Linked DNA regions of Homo sapiens: region 1 is linked to region 2. Evidence: fine-mapped QTL for protein levels in blood plasma. A gene starts in region 2. The other region holds a variant in brackets. All regions are shown on one strand. Distances are between the middles of the regions.

Region 1 (8,000 bases), 45 kb after region 2:
CGTCTCTACTAAAAATACAAAAATTAGCTGGGTGTCGTGGCACGTGCCTGTAATTCCAGCTGCTCGAGAGGCTGAGGCAGGAGAATTGCTTGAACCTGGGAGGCGGAGGTTGCAGTGAGCCAAGATCAAGCCACTGCACTCCAGCCTGGGTGACAGAGTGAGCCTCCATCTCAAAAAAAAAAAAAAAAAGAAAAGAAAAGTAAAGAAAATTTAAGCATCAGCAGATGGGCTTAGTGGGTTGCGGAGCTGGAGGGGTAGGGGGTGATATATGGTTGGGCAGGTGGAAGTTGGTTATCATGGGTGACCAGCTGAGATTTCAGATGTCTTCAGCTGATGGCTCTGAAATGCCCTTAGGTGGTAAGGACACAGCACCACGAGGTTGGGAAGGCATTAGGGAGTCATGAAGCAGACGTAAAAGGCAAATTAGGAGGCCTTGGTAAGCTGCTGAAGGAGAGAGAGGCCTGCATAAAGAGCACAGAGGCGAGGGAGGGTGTCTGGGTCCCACATATATTGGGGGCCCGATCTCTGCACTTCCAGGCCACTCAGCCCGACTAGAGCCTCCGTGAGGGTCAGCTCCTCGTCCCCAAGGGAGGAGAGCAGCTCAGGTTGCAGGGGGAAAACACCCTCTTTATCCAGCAGGAAGTTCTGTTCCATCGTGCTCTCCACCTGGAGGGAATCAAAACAGCATGAAAAGAAAGAACTGGAAACCTCTCTCCTCTCCTAACTCACAAAAATCACAAGAAGGTTACATTCCCCTTATTAGAATTCCTTACTTTACCTTACATTACAACCCCATCTGGGTCTTTGAACAGCCCTATACAGTGGGCAGCACATTGATTTTTAGCCCCATTTTACAGAGGAATAAATTGAGACAGACTCAGACACAGTAAAAAATTTGCTCACAGGCCAGGCGAGGTGGCTCACACCTGTAATCCCAGCACTTTGGGAGGCTGAGGTGGGCAGATCACCTGAGGTCAGGAGTTTGAGACCAGCCTGGCCAACATGGTGAAACCCTGTCTCTACTAAAAATACAAAATTAGCAGGGTGTGGTGGTGGGCGCCTGTAATCCCAGCTACTCGGGAGGCTGAGGCAGGAGAATCGCTTGAACCCGGGAGGCGGAGGTTGTGGTGAGCCAAGATCGCACCATTGCACTCCAGCCTGGGCAAAAAGAGTGAAACTCTATCTCAAAAAAAAAAAAAAAAAAATTTGCTTACAATATTTGGCTAGGAATAAGCAAAGCCACAGTTTCTGTCTCTTCTCCCAAGATCAGGCTAATAAACCCAGATTATTGCCCAGAAATTCAGTCTTCTACCTCTTGTGAAATAACAAAAAATGAGAAATAGAGAGAGAAAGGAGGAGTGGGCATAAGCCCCTGGGATAAGACAGGGATCCTCCAGAATGGCTCCATCCTTAGGCGAAATCTGCATCTCCACTGGCTGCAGCTACTCCCAGACTCTCCCCAGCATCTGCTGTTTTTCCCTCACCAGCTTTAGCTGCACGGGTAGGATCTTTTTCTCCATGGATTTCACCAGCAGCTTCTGTTGGGCTTCACTTAGCTCTGGAGAAAAAAAGCAGAGAAAGATGTGTGTTGCTGGTGCAGAGGGGACTACAGCCTCCAAATAGCGCACTTCCAGAATTTCAGCCTTCATTCATTGGATGTAATTACAACGCAGGTGTTAAGGGAGCCATAGCTGAGGGGTCCACTTTGGTCTTGGAGTCGGAGGGCAGGCTTCCTAAGGGAACAAACGTTTTGGCTTACACCTGAAGGACCACAGAGTTTTTCTAAGTGGAAAACTAGAAAATGTGGAGGGAAGAAGAGCTCTTAGGGGCAAGATAAGAAAATGTTACTCCCTGAAGTTAAAGCTAACAGGTATCAGGATAGAAGTGATGAGCTTAGCTATATGCAGAAATTTTAAATATGTTGCTGATAAAACTAGGGTTATTCAACCTCTATTAGCAAGACTAGGCTGTCTTCTCAGACTACCCAATGTGACCAAGCAAATCCTTAGGAATGAAACCAATTTTTTTTTTTTTTGATGGAGTCTCGCTCTGTTGCCCAGGCTGGAGTGCAATGGAGTGATCTCGGCTCACTGCACCCTCCCCCTCCTGGGTTCAAGCGATTCTCCTGCCTTAGCCTTCAGAGTAGCTGGGATTACAGGCACCTGCCACCACGCCCGGCTAATTTTTCTATTTTTGGAAGAGGCGGGGTTTCACCATGTTGGCCAGGCTGATCTCGAACTCTTGATCACGGGTGATCCATCCACCTTGGCCTCCCAAAGTGCTGGGATTACAGGCATGAGCCACTGCAGCCAGCCATGAAACCAATTTATAAAAATGTAGATATAAACTACTTAACTGTGGTATAATTTGTCATTCATTCATTTATTCATCCATTTGGGAATTGATTCAAGTGATTCATTCCTATTACTGAAAAGGTCTATAAATGAAGACCTTATTCCCCACTTACCTGTTAGGGCTCCAACGAAATAGAGGATGGCGCCCACGGCCTCCTTTGATAGCAGGACATCTTTTGGGAGTGCCTCCAGGGTCACTTCATGTCCCTTGTCTAGAGCCCCTTCAAGCTGTGGGGGAAGGTGGGCGACTATTGAAGATAACATAGGAAAGGGCCCAACCCAGGGCCCAGCACATAATAACCCCTTGACATGCGGAAACTCTCTCCATTTCCTGATTTCTTTTTCGAGGCCTCATGTCCTGAAGAGTACTGGACTCCTGGGTTCCTTGTTTCCTGAGTTTTGGACTCTGGAAAGAGAAGGTTCCAGCCCCTCCAGCAGAAGTCCCTTCTGGCCATCAGAGGGAGCATGTGCCTTGGGGGAACCCACTGTTTGCCCTTTTCCAGGGGACAAAGGGAGGAGCAGTGGCCTGGCAGCCTTGGGGCACGTGGCCAGCCTTGGGGAAGGTATCTAAGGTGGACTCCCCTGGCCACCCACCTCCTGCCCCCGTCAGATCTCCCTACCTGCTGCAATACCCGCCCCCACCAAATCTTCACCAAAACATGCCTTCTCCCACCCTTCCCCACTTCCACTAGGTCCTCACTGCGAGCTCAAGGTCTTGTAGCTCCTTTTTCTTCCCTAGAAGTTTGCTGAGGGAGCTGAGCAGGGAGCTTTGCCCTACTCGGCTCAGCTTCTCCACTTGTTGGGTCTCTCTCTGAACTTCTTCTTTTAGTGTCCTGAAGCCTTCGTGTACGTCCCCTATGGGGACAATAATGGGACACACAGCCCTCCATCGGGCACCTTCCTCTCCAGTCAGCATTCCCCCTGCAGGGCTCCTACACTCAGCCCCCTTTAGGTACCCATGCTCTACCCCCCAGTTTGAGCCTGGCCCCATTTTTCTTTACCAAGGAATGCGGTGACAGAACTATCCACCAACCCTAACCTGAGGGTTGGGGCGAGAAGGTGGGCCAGGATGCATGTATCATCTAACCCAACAGTTAATCTTCCTGAGATCCCAGGCCTTATCCCATATCAGTACACACTTGACTTTTCTTTGAGACTCCAGCAAAAAGTGGAGAAAGAAAGTCTGTTTTCCCTTCCCATGAGTTAGCTGACAAAGAATGACTTCGCCTTCTCCTCTCTCTGCCCCTAATGCTACCTCCATGCCAAAGTCTTGGGAGAAACTCACAAAGTTCCTTACCAACATCAGATGCCTGGATAACTGAGAAAAAAAGGAAAAAAAAAAGATAAGAATGCAATCCTTCAGAATGGCAGCCATACCCAGGGGTTGAGACACTAAGGAAGATGAGGAAATACATCCTGCCTGTCTCCTGGGAGAGCCCAGCTACCTTGTTCCTGGCATTACTGTGACTCAGTGGCTCTGGCCCCAGTTGCTGGGCGGCCGAGTTGCAGATGTGTGTGTAGCAGGTTATAGCTACTAAGACTCTTAATTTTTTTTTTTTTTTTCTAGGCCAGGCTCAGTGGCTCACACCTGTGATCCCAGCACTTTGGGAGGCCAAGGTGGGAGGATCACCTGAGGTCAGGAGTTTGAGACCAGCCTGGCCAACATGGTGAAACCCCATCTATACTAAAAATTCGCCGAGTGTGGTGGCCCGCGCCTGTTATCCTAGCTACTCAGGAGGCTGAGGCACAAGAATTGCTTGAACCTGGGAGGCAGAGTTTGCAGTGAGTGGAGATCTCACCTTTGCACTCCAGTCTGGGCAACAGAATGAGACTCTGTCTCAAGAAAAAAAAAAAA[G/AG]GCCAGGCGCCGTGGCTCACGCCTGTAATCCCAATACTTTGGGAGGCTGAGGTGGGTGGATCACCTGAGGTCAGGAGTTCAAGACCTGCCTGACCAACATGGTGAAACCCCATCTCTACTAAAAATACAAAAAATTAGCAGGGCATGGTGGCGGGTGCCTGTAATCCCAGCTACTCCGGAGGCTGAGGCAGGAGAATCACTTGAACCGGGGAGGTGGAGGTTGCAGTGGACTGAGATTGCGCCACTACACTCCAGCCTGGGCAACAAGAGTGAAACTCCATCCAAAAAAAAATTTTTTTTTTTAAATAGAGACATTGTCTCACTATGTTGCCCAGGCTGGTCTTGAACTCCTGAGCTCAAGGGATCCTCCTGCCTCAGCCTCCCAAAGTGCTGGGATTATAGGTGTGAATCACTGTGCCTGGCTGCTAGTAAGGCTGTTGAGGACAAAGGTCTCAGGCGTCAGACCACCTGGGCAAAGACTCCCCCCTTTCCACTGCTTTTTCCCAAGCTATTGGAATTTCTGCCATGTTTCGGGGACAATTATTTGCTGAGATTCGCTCTGCTATTTCCCTGTCAGTCCTGTCAGAAGGAAAGAAAAAGACTGGAGTTTTAAAATTTGGAGTCAAGAAAGTTTCAGTGGAATGAAAGGAAACACTTACGGATGACCTTCTCCTCTCCTGACTTTTCTGAAGACAGAAAAAATGCACATCTGTCAGCACAAAACCCATTTTTGCCTTTTCATCTAAAACAGTCTTCAAGGCAGTTTCATCAGTGATCATTATAAAAACACAGGGAGATTATGCTAGCTCATCCACCCCCATGATTCGGGAACACACTCAGTCTCCAAGTCTTACTTCTGCTTCTGACTGTGCCTTCCGGTCTCTGTCTGTCAGTTTCTATATCTCTCTGGGACAGTATTTATATGCCTCTATCTGTCTTTCTAAAGTTGAGGCTAGGTATTCTTAGGGACTTGGGAAACAAAAGCAGAGGCTCCTTGGGGGATTATAGTATAAGCTAGGAGAGGGTGGAGGATTTTGGCAGATAATGTCAGGGGTAGGGCGGAAGATGTGGGAAGCCCGTAAGCAATTTCACTTACCTCCAGGAGGGAAGGTTTGCATGTTATCATTGCAGATATGTGGAATATCTGTGAAGGGCAAGGGAGGGAGGGTGGGAGGACACTTAGCAGCTGCCCCACATTCCCTTCTTCAGTCTCAAGCCAAAGGGCTCTGCTAAGGGCTAGGACCTTGCACCCCAAATGCTTCATTTAATTCCCAGCTTCAACCTCCATTGCTGGAAGCAATCTTTTCTTCCTTGATAAATTCTCTACTATGAGAACACTACTTTCTATCATCCATTCCAGTCTCTGTCTGTTTCCTCCTTTGGCCACAGACTTCTTGAGAGCAGAGGCAGTGCATGTTCATATTTGTACCCCCTCCCCCAATAACCACAGTGCCCAGCACCCAGAAGATGCTCAGAATCCAGGAGCCTCTTCACCCTTCTCTCCAGAGCAGGCTCCATGGCTGCAGTCGGATCACAGTACAATACACCCCCCTACTCATTCTCTGACATTTCCGCAAGAGGGGACCAGGGTGCCTCAGTACTGGTGCAGGTAATTCTCATCTTGTGGGGAGAACATGCGGGTCTCTGCTCACCCCACTCATCTTTGCCTTTGACCATCAGCTGTCTCACTCGAAAGGCCAGGACGCAGCCCTTGGGGATGGTTACAGCCTCCTTGTGATTTATGGATCCCTAGAATTAGACAATGAGAATTTGTGAATCTCTGGACATCTTAAGTATGAGATATTGGGAGCGTGAGTTGGGGGAGGTGCAGGGTCAGGGCTGAGAGCCTTCAGGGAGATAAGAAGCTGGAAGCCTTCAGTGGTGTCCCTGGTCTGGACTCTGAGGAAGGACTTCAAAGTCCTTGTGCTCATTTCTGCTGATTTTCCCTCTAGTGACCTGGTTCAGGTCAGTAGAGTCTAGTCAGGTCAGTTCTAGTTCCTGGTTCAGATGCATGAAGGGAACTGGGCAGACCTGCTCCATCTCCTGCCTGTACATCACCCTAGAGCTTCCATCCAAGCCCTGGCTCCTTCTTCCTCTTCACCATCTGTCCCATGCTTACCTCTTTCAGGACGCCTTCCATGACTAACCCCTACTCCTGGCTCCAAATCCCAAATCATCCCTTGAATATTTAGATGCAATAGATAGAGGTATGGAGACCATTCCTTATTTCCATTGGCTTTTCCAAGCCTGTGTTCTCTGGGCTTTAGCCTCTGTGTCTCCTCTATGAACCTGATGACTTTCCGAGAGTAAAGATGTCTCCTCTTTGGAATGGGAGCACCACGAGGGAAAACCCAGGAATGTGACTTTCCCCTTCCCCAGTAGTTCCCTGTGGCATCTGGCGCAGGGATCTGCCCTCACTGGGTGCCACTGACCAGGGAGGGGGCATATGTCTGGGGTTTGGATCTTTAAGAGCCGGGGGAAGGAGTGGCCCTTTTCAGCATCCTCGGTGGGCGCTGATCAGGCAAAGCTAATGAAGCCTCCAAGGAGGGGCTGAATGTAAATGTGTATGTGTGAGTGTGAGTGTGAGAGTGTGTGTGTGTGTGTGTGTGTGTGTTTGAATCAAACCTGTAGCCCCAATGGGGCGAAGAAGGGGAGGGAGAAGCAGGCCTCTGCCTTGCCGGCTCGCTCCAGTGTGACCTCCTGCACCGTCTCCACCACCTCCATCACCACATACAGGTTCTCCCCTTGATCTTGCATCTCCTTCAGGAATGGGTGGTCTGCTGCCAGCTTCCTGTTGCAGGAGAAACATAAGGGAACCGTTCAGAGCTCCTTCCTGCCTGTACCACACCCTCCTCTTTCCTTCTGTCATTCCCAGGAACTAGACATTGTGGTGGCAGGGAAGGAGTGAGGACTCTGGACTAGGGCTGAGGTTGAAACCCAGATCTCATGCTTACTGGCAGGGCAGCTTCTCTGAGTCTTAATTGCCTCATCTATGAAATGAGTATAATGATGCTGACCTCCTGGGTTGCTCAGAGATAAACTCGGTAATTGGGCCAGCACCTGGCCAGGAACAGGGCCTCTTGGGTGCTTCTTACCCCCTTTTCCTCCAGTTCGGGGGTAGATGCTCCCCCCCTCTTTCCTCCCCATTCATCTCTCTGGGATCCCGGGGGTAGATGCTCCCCCCCTCTTTCCTCCCCATTCATCTCTCTGGGATCCTTTCTCTCCACATCTTATGCTCTCTCTTGCTGTTAACACCAGTTCCTCCTCTCCACTTGCTCCTTCTGTCTGCTTCCATATATAAACTCCCTAATCCTAACAAATTTGTTTGCTTTGATCATGCCACTCCCTCAAATTACTACCCTATTTTTTCCTTCATTTCATTGGCAAATATATCAAAAAAATTCTTTTTTTTTTTGAGACGGAGTCTCACTCACTCTGTCACCCAGGCTGGAGTGCAGTGGCACGATCTTGGCTCACTACAACCTCTGCCTCCCGGGTTCAAGCGATTCTTCTCCCTCAGCCTCCTGAATAGCTGGGATTACAGATGTGAGCCACCATGCCCGGTCCACCTAAATTCTTTATAATTTGCCTTGTATTTCCACTACTCAGCTGAAATTACAATGATCTCTTACCTGTCAGTCTCAATGACCTCGCCTAACTCTGTGCAATACTCGATCCTGCTGTGGAAACCCTCCGTGCAACGCTGGCTTCTCTTGGCTTCCAGTCACAGTGTACCACCCTGGCTCAACTCCAGTACTTCTAGTTCCTAAATCTTATCCATTCTGTCTGCA
Region 2 (8,795 bases):
GCCCTACTGGAACCTGCTGCCCCCCAAGCGGCCCATCAAAGAGGTGCTGACGGACATTTTTGCCAAGGTGCTGGAGAAGGGCTGGGTGGACAGCCGCTCCATCCACATCTTTGACACCCTGCTGCACATGGGCGGCGTCTACTGGTTCTGCAACAACCTGATTAAGGTACTTGGGCTGGAGTGGCTGTGGGCCGACATGGGTCCTGTCCCCTGGCTCCCCACACCTGGCCTGGTCTGCCAGGCTTCCCTGAGAGGCTGCCGTGAGCCAGGTGGCCTCCCCGGAATGCCTCGCCTCAGAGTTGCCTCCTTGGGGAGCTCTGGCCAGAGACTGGGATTCAGCCTGAGGGGCGGAGCAACATCTGGGGCCCCCTCTGCGGGCCTTACTGGACAGCCATGCTGGGGTGGCAGGGTGTAGGAGCCCCAGATCCCGGGCCCCTGGCTCCTGAACTGCCCCCTTTCCTGCGCACTAGGAGCTGCTGAAGGAGACGCGGAAGGAGCACACGCTGCGGGCAGTGGAGCTGCTCTACTCCATCTTCTGCCTGGACATGCAGCAAGTGACCCTGGTCCTGCTGGGCCACATCCTACCTGGCCTGCTCACTGACTCCTCCAAGTGGCACAGCCTCATGGACCCCCCGGGCACTGCTCTTGCCAAGTAAGATTCTCTTCAGAGCTTGCCCTGCTCCGGCCACCCAGGGTCAAGCACCCCTCGCCTGGTGCCACCCTGGGAGACTGGGCTTTGGGGAGCCCAGTCAGACACAGAAAGCTCCTGGGGCACCTCTCACTGTCCCCCTTTTTCTGGAACCCTTTGCCAGGCTGGCCGTGTGGTGTGCCCTCAGTTCCTACTCCTCCCACAAGGGACAGGCGTCCACCCGCCAGAAGAAGAGACACCGCGAAGACATTGAGGTAGGCCCCCCAGCTGCCCTCGCCGGCTTCACTTGTTCACCGGTTTGTTACAGCATTTCCTAAGGATTCCCCAGGCAAAGGGAAGCAGTTGTGGCCCCTGCCCTTGGGGCAGCTGTGCCTGGGCATGATTGGTCAGGAATCTGCATGGGTGATTTGTGTGGCCCCAGCTTGCCCATGGGCACAAGGGGCCTGTCAGATTGTGGGAGGGGTTGAGCAGAGAGGGGCTGAGGCCCTGCTAGCCATGCTGACCTCGCTCAAATCGGAGCTCAAGCTCTTTTCCCTGACAGCTGGAAACTGGGGGGTTTAGGGGTGTATAACAGTGACTTTCACTCCCTCTAGGATTATATCAGCCTCTTCCCCCTGGACGATGTGCAGCCTTCGAAGTTGATGCGACTGCTGAGCTCTAATGAGGACGATGCCAACATCCTTTCGAGCCCCAGTGAGTGTGTGGGCTGGCCGCGCGCCGCTCCTTTTCCTGGGAATTCACTCCCCGATGCTGCCACTCTGCCGCTGCCCCAGCTGCAGGCATCTTTGCAGCTGGTCAGAGAGGGTGTGGCAGGGACCTGCTGTTCTAGCCCCCAAGGGGGTGCTCTGTGTCCTGCCCCTGGAGAAGAGGTTGCTGTTCTCACTCCCTGAGGGTTGAAGCTCCTCTGCCCAGGTCCAGCCCAGCCCACAGTTGTTCCCCCACAGCCCTCCTGCCCCTCCCTTACCCCAGGGTTGAGGGGATGACAAGCTACCCAAGTGAGTGAGTTCACTGCCTCAGGCACAGCCTGTGCCATTGACTCACCAGCTCTGACCTTCCTTCCTTCCTTCCCCCAAAACATGCCCGGAGAGGCCCGGGCTGGGGCATGGGGCTACTCCCCACCTTCCTGCCTAAAGAGCACACCCCCCACCAACCACTTCCCTGGAGGTCATCCTTTTCACTGTCCCCTCCTCCCTGCCAGGCTTACTGCCAAGGGTTCCTTCTGTGGCATTTTTCCTGTTTCCAGAGATTTCTCCTGAGCCTGAACTTTTCTCTGAAGCCTTTTAGGAACTAGGGGACCAACTATACACTTGATCAGAAGAAAGATGCTAGGTTTGCCAGCTACAAGTGCTGTGACCTTTAGCTAGCGACTGAGCCAGCCCCCGTCTGGGTCTCCTCATCTGTAAATGGGGTGTTGTGAGGAGTAAGCAGCTTAGGAAGTACCAAGATCGGCCCCTGGCCCTGTGTGCTCACCACATGTTAGTTTTTCTCTCTCATTCCATTGGGATCTCTGTATCTGAGGTCCCTCTGTGCCCTTTTTTTGTTTTGTTTTTTGTTTGTTTGTTTGTTTGTTTGTTTGAGTTGGAGTCTCCCTCTGTTGCCCAGGCTGGAGTGCAGTCGCACGATCTCAGCTTACTGCAACCTCCGCCTCCTGGGTTTAAGCAATTTTCCTGTCTCAGCCTCCTGAGTCTCTGGGACTACAGGCGCCTGCCACAACGCCTGGCTAATTTTTGTATTTTTAGTAGAGACGGGGTTTCACCATATTGGTCAGGCTGGTCTCGAACTCCTGAACTCAGATGATCCACCCGCCTTGGCCTCCCAAAGTGCTGGGATTACAGGCGTGAGCCACCACGCCCAGCCTGTTTTTCTGAGACACGGTTTTGCTCTGTTGCTCAGGCTGGAGTGCAGTGGCACCATCTCGGCTCACTGCAGCCTTGTTCTCCTAGGCTCAAGCAGTCTGCCTCAGCCTCCCGAGGAGCTGGGACTACAGGCGTTGGCACCACACCCAGCTAATTTTTGTATTTTTTGTAGAGATGAGGTCTCGCTAGTTGCCAAGGCTGGTCTCAAACTCCTGGACTCAAGCGATCCTCCTGCCTCGGCCTCCCAAAATGCTGGGATTACAGGTGTGAGCCACTGTACCTGGCCTCCCTTTGTGCTCTTGATCTCAGGGTCTTCTCTGGGCTCTCCATGTACCAGTTACCTCCGATGGGTGAAGGTCGGGTTGGGGCATCCCCGGGGAGCACCACTTTTGCACTCGGCAGGCTGTTTCCCAGCGCTCCATCTGCTCCGTCCCACAGCAGACCGATCCATGAGCAGCTCCCTCTCAGCCTCTCAGCTCCACACGGTCAACATGCGGGACCCTCTGAACCGAGTCCTGGGTGAGTTCCCCACCCCTGCTGCCGAACCTGGGGCTAAGCTGGACGAGTCTCTCTTCTCATGGAGGCTGGGAGACCTTGTCAGCTGGAAGGGGCCTTGCGGTGCCCCTCCCTTCCCTCTCCATGCCCCTCATTGTTGGCTGTCCTGGCCCCCAGGCTCCTGTCTAGTTCCCCCTCCTCCCCTCCCCAATTGCCTTTTATATTTTCTCTCTCTGACACCCCATTTTGGGGACATGCTCAGCATGTGTTTCTTTTCCCTTTTCAGTCCCACCTTCTCCCAGAGTGTGACCTCACCCACTCTCATGGAACTCCCTCCTGTCACTCTCCCCCCACTCTCTACAGCCAACCTGTTCCTGCTCATCTCCTCCATCCTGGGGTCTCGCACCGCTGGCCCCCACACCCAGTTCGTGCAGTGGTTCATGGAGGAGTGTGTGGACTGCCTGGAGCAGGGTGGCCGTGGCAGCGTCCTGCAGTTCATGCCCTTCACCACCGTGAGTACCACCTTCCCGGCTCTCCTGCTGGTGCTGGGGCCTCGGGGCAGCCCTTAGAGCAGGGAGGGGCCTCCTTCCCCCTGGGACAGCACACCCACCACCAGCCGTCCCGCAAGCAGCATCTGTCTGTCCGTGGCAGGTGTCGGAACTGGTGAAGGTGTCAGCCATGTCCAGCCCCAAGGTGGTTCTGGCCATCACGGACCTCAGCCTGCCCCTGGGCCGCCAGGTGGCTGCTAAAGCCATTGCTGCACTCTGAGGGGCTTGGCATGGCCGCAGTGGGGGCTGGGGACTGGCGCAGCCCCAGGCGCCTCCAAGGGAAGCAGTGAGGAAAGATGAGGCATCGTGCCTCACATCCGCTCCACATGGTGCAAGAGCCTCTAGCGGCTTCCAGTTCCCCGCTCCTGACTCCTGACCTCCAGGATGTCTCCCGGTTTCTTCTTTCAAAATTTCCTCTCCATCTGCTGGCACCTGAGGAGAGTGAGCAGCCTGGACCACAAGCCCAGTGGTCACCCCTGTGTGCGCCCGCCCCAGCCCAGGAGTAGTCTTACCTCTGAGGAACTTTCTAGATGCAAAGTGTGTATGTGTGTGTGTGTGTGTGTGTGTGTGTGTTTGTGTGTATTTTGTAATATGTGAGGGAAATCTACCTTCGTTCATGTATAAATAAAGCTCCTCGTGGCTCCCTTTGTGACTGTGTGTGCTGTTGGTATTGGTGCCACCCGGGGCAGGGCATAGTGTCCTCTCCCTGGACTCCTGTGCTGTGGCCAGGGAACGGCTCACTCCTGTGGTGAGGAGGAGGAGGAAGAGGAGCAGAGGCGGCAGGGCTCAGGGTCCTATGTGGGCTTGCTCAGCTGGGGAAGGGCCAGGGGAAAGCAGCTTCCCTTCCTTGGAGCCAAGTTGGCTGGCCTGCTGCCCCCTCCCCCAAAGCCAGCTGTACCCTGAAAGGGGAGAGGCTTTGGCTCAGGGCCCCACAGTGCTGGGGCAGGGTGGCCTGCTCTGCTGTCTCCCGAACCTGGTCCAACACCACCCACACTCTGACTAGCCTGGGATTTGATCTGTTGCCTCCAAAAAAGGACTGGGGGATGGGAGGCGGGGGGATGAGGGGCCGGACCTTTCTTTAACCCTTCCTTGCCTGCCTCACACATCTCTGAGCCCCTAGATGGATGACTCCGAGCTGGCAGTGGGAACTTCTGACCCTGCTTTCCGAGGAGCCACGGGCAGGGGAGGTGGGAGGGACTGAGGAGCTGAGGAGGAGAAGGTTTGGGCAGATAGTGGACTGGGGACTGGTGGGGGTACCCCAAAGCCACACAGGAGTCTTTGGCTGCAGGCAGGCCTCACACCTGTGGTGCGGTCGCTGCCCCCCCTGCTTGCCACAGCTCCCCACCCTCCTGGGCTGTGAGCTTAGCGCTCTTCAGCCCAAGGCTGCCACAAGCAGGAAGTGACCAGCTGGGGCGAGTGCAGAGACCGAGTCTGAGGAGAGAAGCTCTGACCCCAGTGGTCACCTTGAACTTGGCTTCCACTTTGTGGGCAACTTGATGGATGGGCTCAAGTTTATGGAAGATGGTAAATGACAAGCCTGGTGCAGATGCTCAGCACTCCCTGGCTTCATCTTGTCTGGCTGTGTCTGGCCTGTTAAGCCCACCCAGACCCCATGCCCTCTCCTTTCCGGGTTCCCATGGTCCCTGTGCCTCTGTCTTCCCTGCCAGGCTTTGGCTGCTCGAGTGCAGATTCCATGTCTGCCTTGTTCCCTGCTGTGTCCCCAGCACTTAGCCCAGCGTCTGCACAGAGTAGGTGCTCAGATAAATATGTGCTAACGGAATGAATGTCAGACGAACTTGAGAACTTTCCTCCTCCTCCCTGGACCTCCTCCCCAGACCTCCTCCCCGACCTCCCTCTGGCCTCTCCCACCCTTCAGCCACCTCCCCAGCCCCTGGCCAGGCACCAGCTGGACTCAAGAAGGAGGAAGGACGTGACTGGAGGCAAACACTTTATTATCCTGAAGTTCAGTTACAATGTGACAGTGGAGGGGACACTGGTGAGTGGGGGGTGAAGAGGTGGAGGGTGACAGTGGAGCTTCCTTTCACACACAGGCCTGACATGATTCCTCCTGTCTGCTCCCTCCCACATCCCCAGTCCCCGTCCAGCAAGGCAAATGTCCAGGCACCTGCCTGGCCCTAAAAAGAGTCACAGTCCTGACCCTCGTGGGGGCAGGGCAGGTGTCCCGAGGCCACCCAGAAAAACAGGAGACGCGTCGGTGATGTTCGGGAGTCAAACCATGTCCCAAAAGTCTTAAGAAGAAAAACGAGATTCCCCAGCAAATTCGTGGGACCCCAGGGCCATGCCTCCCAGCTCTGGCCACCTCTGCTTGTCCAGGGGCCTCACAGCCAAGGGGATGCAGGGGCCGCTGTGCAGTCGGCTGAGGCCAGAGTGAGGGGTGCAAGGACCCAGATGGGGAACACTGCTGTTTAAATATTAAACAGGGATTTCTTGTCTCCCACGTGGGAGACCTGATACTCTCAAGGGTCCCAGGTGGGGACCCTCAGGACCAGGGGCTCACAGCGGCTCATCCCAGTGCCCATTGCAGAGCCAGGGCTGGGGAGCAGTCATAGTAATAAATACTTGGTATTTACCTATCTACCTCCCAGTCCAGGGGATGGGAGGACAGGAGCTTTTTCTCACTGCTACAGGCAGGAGAATGAAACTCAGAAATGCAGGGAAGGACACAGAGGCCTGGGGCTCCGTTCTGCTCTTCCCTGTCTTTAAATATGAGGCTTAAATAGACATAAATATTAAATAGAGATAAATACATGGGATGGGGAGGGCTTGGCTCAGGGCTGGGCAAGGTGGCGTAGAACGCGGTACGACACCTCCAGGAAGCTCTGCAGATGGGAGGCAACCAGGACCCCTCCTGCCCGGCGCTGGAAAGCAGAGGCGAAGGCCGGCATGGCACCCTGGGTGGGCTGCAGGGCAGGGGCCATTCCCAGTTCTTCCATCTGTGGGGGAAAGCTGTGATCAGTGGTTGGGCCCTTCTGAGTGGGCGTTATTACAAATGAGGAAATGCTGGGGGTGACAGCATGGACAGGGCCCATACACAGGCCTGGCTGTGGTGCCCAGAATGCCAGCACGACCTTGGCCACCCTGCCCAACAAGGCTCACCTGCTGCCAGATGGTGGTGGCAAAGTCGGCGACGTCCAGCTGCAGTGTGTCCAAGGTGGGACCCAACTCGGGGGAGATCCCTTCCAGGGCCTGCAGGAGCCCCTGGTAGAGGAAAAGGCCGCTATGGAGTTGGCTCAAGCAGCCTGCCTGTGAGACAGAGCGGAAGAGTTAGGGGGTGCTGCCTGAGATACGTCAGGCCCCCAGCTTGGAACCTGGAGACATGGGGGAGCCCATGGGTGTTCCTCCTCTCCTTCCCCCTCCTCATTAGCCTTATCCTTTCCTGACACTCACCAGCTGCAGGGCCTGGCTGGGGCAGCTGCTCAGGGGAGCCCAGGGGATGCCCAGAGAGTGTCCGAGCAGCACCAGCTCCTCGGGGTGGCACAGCTTGTAGGTGGCACACTGGGGATGGAAGGATGCTGAGTGAGACTCGCCATGGCCGGGTCGCCGCTCCTTCCCGGGTCCTCCCCGACTCTCTGGTCTTTCCCCTCCCTCCATGTCCTGCCAGGCTGTTCAGTTCCTCTCTGCCCTGCACCCCCACTCTCTGATCTCACAGGGGCCCTTGCCCTTTCTCCTGAATGTAATGCCTCCACTCCCATCCCAGCCAGCCCTCCCGAGCACTGTCCCCACCAAGGTCCTCCTCCCCAAGTCCCTTCCCAGCCTTCCCCAGCTCCACTGCTCCTAATATTCTCCCACGTCCCTTCCAGAGGATGTTGGCCCTGCAGTTCCATCCCCCTTAGCTCTCCCCACCGGGCTTCCCTCCACAGCCCTCTCACCCACCTCACTCACCAGCTTCTCCTGGAGCGCTGCGCCATCGCCCTGGATCTTCCTCACTTGCTCTAAGCACTTGAGCAGGAAGCTCTGGGGCAGGGAGCTGGCAGGGCCCAGGGGGGTGGCTTCCTGCACTGTCCAGAGTGCACTGTGCCACAGCAGCAGCTGCAGGGCTGGGGACAGAGCGGGCTCAGGAGACATGCTGTTCCCTACCACCTGAGGCCCTCTCGGGGACACTGGGTGCCTTTAATCCCCATTCCCAGAACGGGGATCCCCAGCCCCTCTGTCACACCAGCCTCCCTCCCATGCCAGGGCAGGCGGCTCTCCCATCCTGGGCCAAGACACTCACCCATCAGCTTCATGGGGCTCTGGGTGGCAGGTCCAGCCATGGGTCTGGGTGGGGCTGGGCTGCAGGCTCCGGGCTGTTTTGGGGCCCAGCTCTAGGGGGGCCTTTATACATAACCCCATGGAGGCCTGGGAGGAAATTACCTGGGGCCACGACTAAGGCTTAGTAATAACTTCCCAGGATTTATGCAAATTTGGTGTCCAAGACAATGCAGGGGGGTTGGAACAAAAAGCTGTTTGCGAAAGTTTTGTGAAATTGTGGAATCTCTGATCCTCCTTTGACGTCGCCTTGCCCCCCTCAAACTCCCTTCCTCCCGCTGCCCCACCCAGGCCTGAATGGCCCCAGAGTGTTTGAACAGAACAGCTGAACAAAGGCTGAGCCGCTGATAGACGCCTGGAAGCGGCAGCAGCCTGTGGGGAAGTGGCAGCTGAGTCGGGGTCTCCCTCTCTGCTCTGGCAGACTTGCGGGGGCAGTGTCCTTTGCCCCTCTCCTTTGGGATTCTCAAGCCTGTCCCCCAAGCCCCCAAATTCTAAGAGAGAAAAAAAGAAGCTGGTTGCTCCCATTCCTACCCCCAAACTCTCCGGAGGCTGCCTGTCTGGGAGACCTCCTGAGCCCCTACCTGAGATAAGGACATTGGGTCTTGGCTGCTGTGCCCACCCCACACTTGGATAGGCACCATCGAAAGTTCCAGGCTGTCCTGTCCCAAGTTGATTAGCTGGGAACTCCCCCAGAAACCCCCCCGCCCCCCATGACTCATTCGGCTAAAGCCCCTAGAATCCCGGTAGAGCCAGAGGAAACCGGATGTCTGTCCCGAATGAGGCAAGACCCTTCGAGGCGATTGGCTCACCTGACCTTCACCTCCTCGTGCACGACCCTGACAGTAGGGTCCCCAAGGGCTTTGGAACTGCGGGATTGGGACACGTGACTTCCCTGGTCATTCACCTTGAAGTGGACACGGGCTGGGGTGAGAGAGGGGAAACTGCCCCATCTTCTCATCTTAGAACCATGCAGCGTTA

Alleles and levels. Positions count from the first base shown, and alleles are read on the strand shown. Strength reflects both the effect of a copy and how common the allele is.
In carriers of allele G in region 1, the plasma level of the protein whose gene starts at base 7,857 in region 2 tends to be lower than with AG alone (weak association).

The links. A credible set is the group of variants that fine-mapping cannot tell apart. PIP is the chance, under the fine-mapping model, that this variant and not a neighbour inherited with it causes the effect. Protein levels are from antibody-based Olink assays in UK Biobank. Linkage for the fine-mapping came from a reference panel and not from the study's own genotypes, which makes the PIPs less certain.
Region 1: its variant is the best candidate, but not a certain one, in a credible set for the plasma level of the CSF3 protein (UK Biobank, PIP 0.51).

What each region holds. Positions count from the first base shown.
Region 1 is chr17:39,969,482-39,977,481 of GRCh38, reverse strand. It overlaps GSDMA (gasdermin A), which reads right to left. Exons shown (of 12, transcript NM_178171.5): 4 at 6,835-7,000; 5 at 5,862-5,958; 6 at 5,306-5,353; 7 at 4,869-4,895; 8 at 3,652-3,672; 9 at 3,055-3,209; 10 at 2,468-2,582; 11 at 1,485-1,558; 12 at 1-666. The coding sequence ends at 424. Among named protein-coding and RNA genes, the nearest start is that of PSMD3, 7.3 kb to the left of the region's middle. The variant G/AG (reference allele first, on the strand shown) is at 4,210.
Region 2 is chr17:40,014,502-40,023,296 of GRCh38, reverse strand. It overlaps CSF3 (colony stimulating factor 3), which reads right to left and starts at 7,857. Exons shown (of 5, transcript NM_172219.3): 1 at 7,783-7,857; 2 at 7,452-7,606; 3 at 6,957-7,064; 4 at 6,666-6,812; 5 at 5,484-6,502. The coding sequence starts at 7,822. The coding sequence ends at 6,338. MED24 (mediator complex subunit 24) reads left to right here. Exons shown (of 26, transcript NM_014815.4): 20 at 1-166; 21 at 471-652; 22 at 813-903; 23 at 1,243-1,342; 24 at 2,944-3,024; 25 at 3,364-3,512; 26 at 3,652-4,193. The coding sequence ends at 3,768. PSMD3-AS1 (PSMD3 antisense RNA 1) reads left to right here and starts at 8,656. Exons shown (of 3, transcript NR_198981.1): 1 at 8,656-8,743. RefSeq lists an enhancer at 7,448-7,947.